Regions from separate parts of the Homo sapiens genome. Here region 2 is linked to region 1. Evidence: fine-mapped expression QTL. A gene starts in region 1. The other region holds a variant in brackets. All regions are shown on one strand. Distances are from middle to middle.

Region 1 (5,371 bases):
AAGCAAACAGCTTTCTTTTCTCAAGGGCCTCCTTCAAGTCAATATATGTGATCAGAGTTTGCACCTCGATCACTGCTCTTCTCCTGGCTTCCCGGATGCAGGGGTTTTTTTCAAGACTTACCTCATCCAACTGTCCAATTAAACCCTGCAATTCTGTTTTGGAGCTCAGGTACAATTCAGAAGGGTTTTGTGCTTGGAGAAGTTCATTTTTTATTTCTCTCATTCTCTTGAGGACCTTTTCTATTTTTAAAATGGAATGATTCTGTCTCAGGTCAAATGCTTTAGTTGTGTCTGCTTCCTCTTCCAAATCCAGATATTTCAATAATTTGTTGATATCTTCTACTACCTCCCTCCGATAATTTCTGATTTCTGTCCGGCCGCACACATCTAGAGCATCCAGGTCAGCGATCAGCCCCGAGAGCACACAGGATAAGTGCCTGCAGGTCTCATTGTTGTTCACACCCATCAGAAGTGCAATCAGGACCCCTCGGGCCTTGTTCACCTCACACATCACGAAGTTGATTTTGGCAACGGAAGGATGTGCATCCTCGGAAAGCGGCAGGGAAGGCTGCTTTTTCATGCAGTCTTCGATTATCTCTTGCACCGCACAGATTTTGGTTAAAGTGTGATACCTTGCTTTCCGCAAGGAGATTTTTCCTCCAGTTTTAACATGTGTCAGCCTCAGAATGATATCTTGGATGCCTTCTTCAAACTCATCAGTTACGCAGTTGCCTCCATTATAAAATGGCACAATTTTCTCTCTCACGAGGGACTGGGCTTCCTCAAAAATGTTCTGTATTTCAATCCGGTGTGGGTGGTTTGCATTCTGCTCCAACTCTTTGAGAAGACGTTCTGTCTCCTGTGCTGCCCGCTTCCTAGCTTGCTGAATATCTCCTTTTCCTTCAGTATCTACAGAGTCTATTTCAAAAAGCTGTTTTGTTAGAATCCTCTCCAGTTTCTTGTAATTCTTGTCATCTGACAGACCACTGAAGCCGATAACTTGCTGTTCTACACTTTTTACTTCCTTTTGGATTTCCTGAAGCCTACTAATAGAAGGATGTTGGTTTCCCATATCCATACTTTTGTTGTGTTCAGTTTCACAAGCACTAAAAGACGACAAGAATGATAACTTACTACAGCACAAGGCTTCTGCAGAACACTAATGGTATATTAAGTCATTCTAAAATTCTCATTTTAAAAAGGTATACTTCTGAGCAGTCATCCCACCTCAGCCTCCCCAGTAGCTGGGTCTACAGTCGTACACCACTACGCCCAGCTAATGTTATTTTTAGTAGAGACAGGTCTCACTATATTGCCCAGGCTGGTCTCAGACGATCCGCCCGCCTCCGCCTCCCAAAGTGCTGGGATTAAGGTGTGAGTCACCGTACGCGACACAAACTATTTGGAACCAGCAGGGCACCTTTATGAAAGGTGAAACAGTAGCTCTTGTAACCTTCCGAACACTAACAGTACCCCGCCCCGCCACACAGCTATGCCTAGTTTCCAGAAACTCTAAGCAAAAGAAAGAACCAGAACAAAAACCAGTGGCTCTCAGACATCCCCAAGGTCCCCGCTTCTTCGTTTCTCTCCATCCCTTTGTGCACTTCCCCTCCCCACCCTTTTAGCTCCTCACACATCTTCCCTCACAGAAGTCTCCCTGAAGAGATTAAAACCCCACAGGTAAAGAAGAGCGACCGGGACAGCGCTGAAGGGCACCACCTTGGGCTTTCGAGGCCCAACACCTCCTCAGCCCCCAACATGCTCCACTCTCTCAAAAAAAAACAACCCGCGAAAACGTGGTAACTATGAATAATTCATTCACTCGCCTCCCACTGGGAGTCCACAATGGCCTAATGCACGTTTCAAGCTCTTGGTTTCTATCAAACGGCTCGCTCAAGGTGGGTAACCAATGGAAACGCATAATCTATCCCCGGCGGATGTCCTGGAGGCCACGGAGGGAAGGCGGCCCGAGCTGCTTCCTCCCCGCCTCGCCCTTCCCTCTTGGCCCTTTACCCAAAAGAAGTCTGAATTGGATGCGGTCTTGGCGTCCCGTGGCTGAGGTGGCGAGGTGGAAGATCAGCCCTTTACGGGGTGCGGCACCGGAGCTGGGCCCCCAGCTGCATGCCTCGCACCCCTCCCGACTAGGTCTGAGCGGGGCAGCCGGTGAAGGGGCCGCTACTGGCTGCAGCAGCCGCTCCGGGCGTCTTGGCCCGGGTGCCAGGGCGCGCCTGCAGGACGTGACCTCACAATGGGCGCGCGAGGGGAGCTCGGCCCGGCCGGGGGAAGCCGGGGGAGGAGGGGAACCGAGGCCCGGCCGGAGACACCAGAGACCAGGCCCGGCCAGCCCCGGTCGCTTCCGACCCCAGGGGCGGGGACAGCGCCGAGACCGACTCTGCCCTGCCTGATCCGACAGGCCGCACGGGGCTGGGCGCTGGCGAAGGGGTGGCCCAGCGGGGAGCCCCGCGCGGAGGTGGTGCCCCACTCGTCCCCCCGAGAGAGGGAAAAGGCTACAAGCCGCGCTTCGCTCACCTGTCCCGCCCGCGCCATCGCGCGATGCGTCGCCGACGCTTCCACGACTTCCGCAGCTCCGGCAGTCGCCCGGGCCCGGCAGCCCCGCCCCTGGCCGAACACCCCTAAACCCGGGGACACCTCCTCCGGCGTCCGCGCCTAGCCGCCGGCAGCGCCACGCCCACCGCCAGCGGCGCAGCGAGGCAGCCTGGAGTGACCGCGACCAAGGAGCGGCCGCCCGGGTCAGCCCGCGCCGCCCGCCGCCCCCTCACCCCGTCGCACCGCTGGGAAAGCGCACGGTCGGCCGCGCCGCCGCGCTTCCTCGGGCTTCGCGACCCTGCCGTAAAGCGGCCCCTCGCGCCGTCGCAATGCTGCCGTGCGCCGCGGGAGCCAGGGGGCGTGGGGCCATGGTGGTCTTGCGGGCGGGGAAGAAGACCTTTCTCCCCCCTCTCTGCCGCGCCTTCGCCTGCCGCGGCTGTCAACTCGCTCCGGAGCGCGGCGCCGAGCGCAGGGATACGGCGCCCAGCGGGGTAAGCAGGGGCCTGGGGACATTGGGCCGGGAGGGGTGACCGGAAGGGAAGACAAACCCGGGCCTCGGGGCCACTCCCTGTTCTGCACAGCCGCCTCAGGCCTTTGTCCAGGTGCTCTCGCGTCCTATCCCGAACAGTCCCGCAGCCCCGAGGCTCCCGCATCAACGCCCTCAGTCGGATGGGACTGAGGGTGCCGCCGCCACCACGCCGGGGACTGTTGACAGCCAGAACCTTTAAGCGTAACAGAGTCACCTGGCAAGTTTGTACCTACCTTATTTGTTCCCGAGAATGATTATTTTTTATTTTTAAAGAGCTCTTGGCTTACCGTGCGTTTTTTTTCGTTGTGTGTGTGTGTGTTTTGGCTTTGTTACAATTATTAGTGCTTTTCTTCAAGCGGCGAGCACTTTATCATCGTACTTTTGTAGCACTTCACGTTGAATAGTTGTTATTTGCAAACTATGTGTGGGTATATGCATGTTACTGGCCAAAGATCCGCAAAGAATGTCTGTAGCAAGAATGTCTGTGGCAAGCAATTTTTATAAGTGGTACTTTTGGGAGGGATGTTTTGTTTAAGGGAGGCCTAGGCCTTGATTCCGTCTGTCAGATGAAAATGTTGACTAACGGTGTGGAATGGGCTGGAGATAAAATATTCAAGCAAAGCATGCAAATACCAAACAGGCTAATGAAGGAGGCTGGAAAACTTGGTTTAAACAATAATTAAAGAAGTATTAAAAAAGTGTTAATTAAAAATTGGACGGGCTCCGTGGCTCACGCTTGTAATCCCAGCACTTTGGGAGGCCGAGGCAAGCGGATCACGAAATCAAGAGGTGAGACCATCCTGCCCAACATGGTGAAACGTCTCTGCTAAAAATACAGAAATTAGCTGGGCATAGTGGCGCGCGCCTGTAGACCCAGCTACTCGGGAGGATGAGGCAGGAAAATCGCTTGAACCCGGGAGACGGAGGTTGCTGTGAGTCGAGATCGCGCCACTGCACTCCAGCCTGGCGACAGAGGGAGACTTCATCTCAAAAAAAAAAAAGCTAATTAAAAATTGCAAATGTACTTGCTTGTACATTTTCATTTCTGTTGGGCTGTGGCTGTTAGTACACTTTCATAATTGTAGCTTTGAAGGTCTATCTAGTTTACAATTTAAACAAGGAGTTACCAGGGCAACTTGCCAACCAGACACCCAAGTGGCTAGCTCAGTTCTGTGTTACAGTGACCAAGTCCTTGCCTTCTATCCCTAGAACATAGAAACCCACCCAGCATCTCTATCTTTGGGCAGAAAGATAGAGCAGGTGTCTGAAAATGCTCTAAGAGAGCAAACGGGAAATCAACCAAGACATTTCCCGGGCGGGGGGGATTTTCCCTAGCTTATTTTGTGAACTTGTGCTGGAAAGAAACAACAGCACCCAAATAAGGATTTCTCTATTGTCATATACACTTCTTTTTTTTTTTTTTTTTTTTTTTTTTGAGTTGGAGTCTCCCTCTGTCGCCCAGGTGGGAGTACAGTGGCGTGATCTCAGCTCACTGCAACCTCTGCCTCCCGGGCTCAAGCGATTCTCGTGCCTCAGCCTTCCGAGTAGCTGGGACTACAGGGGCCCACCACCATGCCCGGCTAATTTTTTTGTATTTTTAGTAGAGACAGGGTTTCACCTGTTGGCCAGGCTGGTTTCAAACTCCTGACCTCAAGTGATGCGCCTGCCTGGGCCTCCCAAAGTGCTAGGATTACAAGTGTGAGCCACCACTCTCAGCCTTAGACTTCTTGTTAAAGTAAAATAAATCTTACCATGGGTCTGTTCTCAAGATGAGAGACCTCTCTGCCTTGTTCGTTTTTTCTTTTTTCGAGATGGAGTTTTTGCTCTGTTGCCCAGGCTGGAGTGCAATGGCGCAGTCTCGGCTCACTGCAACCTTTGCCTACTGGGTTCAAGCAATTCTCCTGCCGCAGCCTCCTGAGTATAGCTGGGATCACAGGCGCATGCTGCCACGCCTGGTTAATTTTTTTTTCTTTTTTTAGTAGAGATGGGGTTTCACTATGCTGGCCAGGCAGGTCTCGAACTCCTGACTTCAGGTGATCCACCCGCCTTGGCCTCCCAAAGTGCTGAGATTATAAGTGTGAGCCACCATGCCCAGCCAGCACCAGCTTTTAATTGAAAAATATTATAGAACTTAAGAGTCAGGCACCATTCTTCCTTCCAAATCCATCTTTAAAACTCAGCTTTTCAGAAATATAACTGCTTTTGGTAAAGAAAAAAAAATTAAGACTTTTAAATTCTGTTCCCTAGCCACTTCATGCCTGCTTATGTCTTACCTATGTAGTTTGCATCATTGGT
Region 2 (5,371 bases), 21 kb after region 1:
TAACTAATAAAATAGAACAAGTGTAACAATATGCCAGCATCTCTAATCTTGTATTTTGCAACCATTACCAAGTAAATAAGGGTTACTCAGACACAAGCACTGCTGTACGACGACAGTGGATCTGATCACCGAGACGGCTGCTGAGTAACTAACGAGTGGGGCGCGTCTACACTGTGGAGGTGCTGGACAGAGGGAGGAGTCGCCTCCTGGGCTGGTCGGAGTAGGACCTTGGGAGGTTTCATCACGCTACTCAGAACAGCATGCAGTTCAAAACTTATGACTTGTTCATTTCTGGAATTTTCCATTTAATATTTTCAGACCCCACTTTACCTCGGGTAACTGAAACCATGGAAAGAAAAACCATGGATGGAGGGGACAGCTGTGCTGCCGCCATCTCCCTTACACAGTTGAGTAAACCGAGGCACAGAAGAAAATGAAGTAGCCCCAGATGACGTAGGAAATGGCAGAACTGAAGGGAAAAGCAGAGCAGGGGGCTGTAGAGTTAAACTGTTCTTCATTCCGGTGGCACTAGACCTGCCCGGGCGGCCAGAGGACACGTGGCTCCTGTCCTGTCTGCCGTGTGGCTAGGGGACAGCCGTGCTTGTGCTGTGCCGTCTGAGTGTTTGTTTCTGTCTGTGGGAATAAAGGGGTTGCCAGACACCCTCCCTGCTCTGTGGAGGGAGGGTGGAATCATGCCTTTGGCCACTTTGCCCACTCCCCCTTGGGCCGGAGCATCAGCATTAGCTGTGCCACAGGGTGGTATGCGCTCTGCTGAAGGTGGCACCTTCAGGGAAAGGCAGTCTGCCGGGGAGGCTAGCGAGCACCCTGGGTAGGAGCTGAGCGTGGCCTCCGCGCCTCCTCATGGGAAGTGCTGGAGATGCAGGAGCCCCTGAGCCAGAGCCCAGCGCTCTTACAAGAGACCTCACTTCCTGTTCGGGGACTGGGGCTGCTAAGTCAGAGTGCGCCTCCTGCACCCGCCACCCTGGATGTGGTTCCATTCCCTGGTCCCTGAGCCATAGCTGGGGGGCATGAGACTGTCCCCTGGGCTGCTTTGGGGACCCTACTTCAGGGCAGCCCTGCCACTCCCTGTAACGGGCTGTGGGTCCTGCCCTGTGGCCTTCCTACCTCTCTTGCGTGTGGGTGAGCCTGAGCGTGGCCACCGCCCTGGGAGTGCCACAGAGGCAAGCGGCACTGGTCCTCATGTGTAAACAGCCCCACCAGCACGCGGGGCTGGAGTAGTCAGGCCGGGACCTGTCCCAGGAATGGGCAGGCTGTTAACCTAGGATGCATTCAAGTTAGGACACATTTCATTCCCGTGTAGCGGTGGCTCCCAGTTCCTCCGCAGAACCTGCAGGAGTGTGCGTGATGAAACCCGTCACTCGTTGTGTATGGTAGACATACCTGCCTGGGTCGTAATCACTTGTGAAGAAAATGAATTATGCTGTGACCTTTAGATACGATTCACATACCATAAAATTCACCCTGCCTTTTTTTTTTTTTTTTGAGATGGAGTCTCCTTGTCGTGCCCTGCCTAAATTCACCCTTTTAAACTGTATAATTCCATGGCTTTTAGTAGTCACAAGATTGTACAACTACATCACTAATTCTGAACATTTTCATCACCTCAAGAAGAAACCCCACACCCATTAGCCAGTCTCAATTCCTGCCTCACCTAACCCCGGCAGCCCACTTTATATCTCTGGATTTGCCTATTCTGAACATTTCCAGATAAATGGAATCATACAATATGTGGTCTTTTGTGTCTGCCTTTTTTTCACTTAGGTTCATAATGTTTTCAAGATTTATTTATATTGTCTCATGTATTAGCACTTTGGAGATTTTTTTAATGGCTGTATAATATTCTATACGGATATACCATGTTTTGTTTATCCACTTACTAGTTGATGAACATTTGGATTATTTCTACCCTTTGGCTATTATGAATTATGCTACTGTGAATAATCCTGTGTATACCTACAGGTGAACTGCTGAGTTAAGAGTCTTTTTGGCCTGGCGCGGTGGCTCACGCCTGTAATCCCAGCTCTTTGGGAGGCCAAGGTGGGCGGATCACTTGAGGTCAGGAGTTCATGACCAGCCTGGCCAACATGGTGAAACCCGATCTCTACTAAAAATACAAAAAATTAGCTGGGTGTGGTGGCGGGCGCCTGTAATCCCAGCTACTCGGGAGGCTGAAGCAGGAGAATTTGCTGGAACCCGGGAGGTGGAGGTTGCAGTGAGCCGAGATTGTGCCATTGCACTCCAGCCTGGGCAACAGAGCAAGACTCGATCTCAAAAAAAAAAAAAAAAAAAAAAAAAGAGTCTTTTTTCCTCCTGAGACCAAATACCTGGTGTCTTCTCTAATTCCACTTCTCCAACTCCTCAACACCAGCTATAGGTGTCCAGCAATTCAGTTCAATTCTGACACTGTCTACTTGGAGTTCATGTCTGATGCCACAGGTTAAAGACCCAGTCCCACAAGATTGCCTCCACTGAGGCAGTCTTTCTCTTTGGATAAATTCCTGTTTACATCCTTTGCCGGTTGCCAGTCCTGGGCCACTTGTCCCTCTGCCTGACAGGCTATAAATCAGACTATGACCCCCTCCACAGGATTGATAATTTGCTAGAATGGATCACAACATTCAGAAAGGTGTTTTACTTACTCTTAGCGGTTTATTATTAAGGATACAACTCAGGGACAGCCAGATAGCAGAGATGCACATGGCAAGGTATGGGGGCATGCGGAGCCCCTGCGCCCTCTCTGGGCATGCC[A/G]TCCTCCCAGCACCTTTTGTTTGTTTGTTTGTTTTTTTGAGCAGGTCTCACTCTGTCGCCCAGGCTGAGTGCAGTGGCATGATCATGGCTCACTGCAGCGTCAGCCTCCTGGGCTCAAGCAACCCTCCCTCGGCCCCACAAAGCACTGGGATAACAGGCGTGAGCCACCGTGCCTGGCCTCCCAGCACCTCAATATGTTCAGTAGCCCGGATGCTCTCTGAACCCCATGGTTTAGGGATTTTTATGGAGGTCTCATGAGGTAGGCATGGTTGATTAAATCATTGGCCGTTGGTAATTAGCTCAATCTCTACTCCCTCTCCTTTCCCCAAAACTGAAAGTTTTGAGCTTCCAATCAAGGCTTGGTCTTTCCGGCCCCCATCCCGAAGCAGTACAGGAGCCCACCAGAGCTGCCCCATTCGAACAGGAGCAGCTGCTATCACCCTTCATCACTCAGGAGATTCTGAGGTTTTAGGAGCTCTGTGCCAGGAACAGGGGACAAAGACCAAATACCTCTCTATAATGCCACGTGGGTCTTATGATCACGAACTCTGTGTTTAACTTTTTCAGGAATTACAAAGCTGTTTTTCAGAGTGGCCTGACCTATTTTTTTATTTCCACCAGCAATGTATGAGAGTTCTAATTTCTCTACATCCTTGTCAACACTTGTTATTGTCTGTGTTTAATAATAGCTATCCTAGCGGGTGTGACGTGGCATGCCTTTGTCTTTCTGATTTCCCGTGGTGTTGAGCATCTTGTCATGTGCTTATTGGTTGTTCGTGTATCTTTTTTGGAGAAATTCCTGTTTAAATCCTTTGCCCATTTTAAAAGTGGATGATTTGGCCAGGTGCAGTGGCTCACTCCTGTAATCCCAGCACTCTGGGAGGCCAAGGCGGGCGGATCATGAAGTCAGGAGTTCAAGACCAGTCTGACCGATGTGGTGAAACCCCGTCTTTACTAGAAATACAAAAATTAGCCAGGTATGGTGGTGCGTGCCTGTAATCCCAGCTACTCAGGAGGCTGAGGCAGGAGAATCGCTTGAACCCAGAAGGCAGAGTTTGCAGTGAGCCGAGATTGCGCCACTGCACTCCAGCCTGGGTGACAGAGCAAGACTCTGTCTCTAAATAAATAAATAAATAGGATGATTTGTCTTTTTGTTGCTGAGATAAAAAGAGTTCTTGGCCAGGCGCGGTGGCTCACGCCTGTAATACCAGCACTTTGGGAGGCCAAGGCGGGTGGATCACCTGAGGTTGGGAGTTCGAGACCAGCCTGACCAACATGGAGAAACCCGTCTCTACTAAAACTACAAAAAATTAGCTGGGCGTGGTGGCACATACCTGTAATCCCAGCTACTCGGGAGGCTGAGGCAGGAGAATTGCTTGAACCTGGCAGGTGGAGGTTGTGGTGAGCCGAGATCGTACCATTGCACTCCAGCCTGGGCAACAAAAGCGAAACTCCGTCTCAAAAAAAAAAAAAAAGTTATTTACATATTCTCGATACTAGACCTTTATTAGATGGATGATTAGCAAATGTTTTTCTCCCGTTCTATAGGTTTTTTCTCTTTTTTTTTTTTTTTTTGAAACAGAGTCTCGCTCTGTCGCCAGGCTGGAGTGCAGTGGTGTGAACTCGGCTCACTGCAACCTCCACCTCCCGGGTTCAAGCAATTCTCCTGCCTCAGCCTCCCGAGTAACTGGGACTACAGACGCACGCCACTACACCCGGCTAATTTTTGTACTTTTAGTAGAGACGGGGTTTCACCATGTTGGCCAGGATGGTCTCGATCTCCTCACCTTGTGATCCACTTGCCTCGGCCTCCCAAAGTGCTGGGATTACAGGCGTGAGCCACCATGCCCGGCCCGGCCCTTTTTTGTTGTTTTTTGTTTTTTTTTGTTTTGTTTTTGGAGACGGAGTTTCGCTGTTGTTGCCCAGGCTGGAGTGCAATGGCACGATCTCGGCTCATTGCAACCTCCACCTCCTGAGTTCAAGCAATTCTCCTACCTCAGCCTCCTGAGTAGCTGGGATTACAGGTGCCTGCTACCATGCCCGGCTAATTTTTGTATTTTTAGTAGAGACGGTGTTTCAGCACGTTGGCCAGGCTGGTCTCGAACTCCTGACCTCAGGTGATCCACCCACCTCAGCCTCCCAAAGTGCTGAGATTATAGGCGTGAGCCACTGCACCTGGCCTTTTTTTTTTTTTTTTTTTTTTAACGAGACAGGGTCTGGCTCTGTTGCCCAGGCTGGAGTGCAGTGGTATGATCATGGCTCACTGCAACCTTGAACTCCTGGGCTCAGGTGACCCTCCTTCCCCGGCCTCTTGAGTAGCTAAGACTACAGGCATGTACCACCATACCTAGCTAATTTTTTTATTTTTTGGAGAGATGAGGTCTTATTATGTTGCCCAGGCTGGTCTTGAACTCCTGGTCCCAAGTGATCCTCCTGCCTCAGCTTCCCAAGTAGCTGGGACTACAGACGTGCACCACCACGCCCAGCTAATTTTTGTATTTTTAGTAGAGATGAGGTTTTACCATGTTGGCCAGAATGGTCTCTATCTCTTGATCTTCTGATCGGCCCAGCCCGGCCTCCCAAAGTGCTGGAATTACAGGCA

What was found. PIP is the estimated chance that this variant, and not a neighbour inherited with it, causes the effect. A credible set is the group of variants that fine-mapping cannot tell apart.
Region 2: its variant is the best candidate, but not a certain one, in a credible set for the expression of COA8 in whole blood (TOPMed, PIP 0.88).

What each region holds. Positions count from the first base shown.
Region 1 is chr14:103,560,087-103,565,457 of GRCh38, forward strand. It overlaps COA8 (cytochrome c oxidase assembly factor 8), which reads left to right and starts at 2,874. Exons shown (of 5, transcript NM_001370595.2): 1 at 2,874-3,038. The coding sequence starts at 2,916. It overlaps BAG5 (BAG cochaperone 5), which reads right to left and starts at 2,571. Exons shown (of 2, transcript NM_001015048.3): 1 at 2,530-2,571; 2 at 1-1,106. The coding sequence starts at 1,078. RefSeq lists enhancers at 1,176-1,689, 1,789-1,838 and a silencer at 2,179-2,828.
Region 2 is chr14:103,581,251-103,586,621 of GRCh38, forward strand. All of the region lies in intron 3 of COA8 (cytochrome c oxidase assembly factor 8), which reads left to right. Among named protein-coding and RNA genes, the nearest start is that of COA8, 21 kb to the left of the region's middle. The variant A/G (reference allele first, on the strand shown) is at 2,770.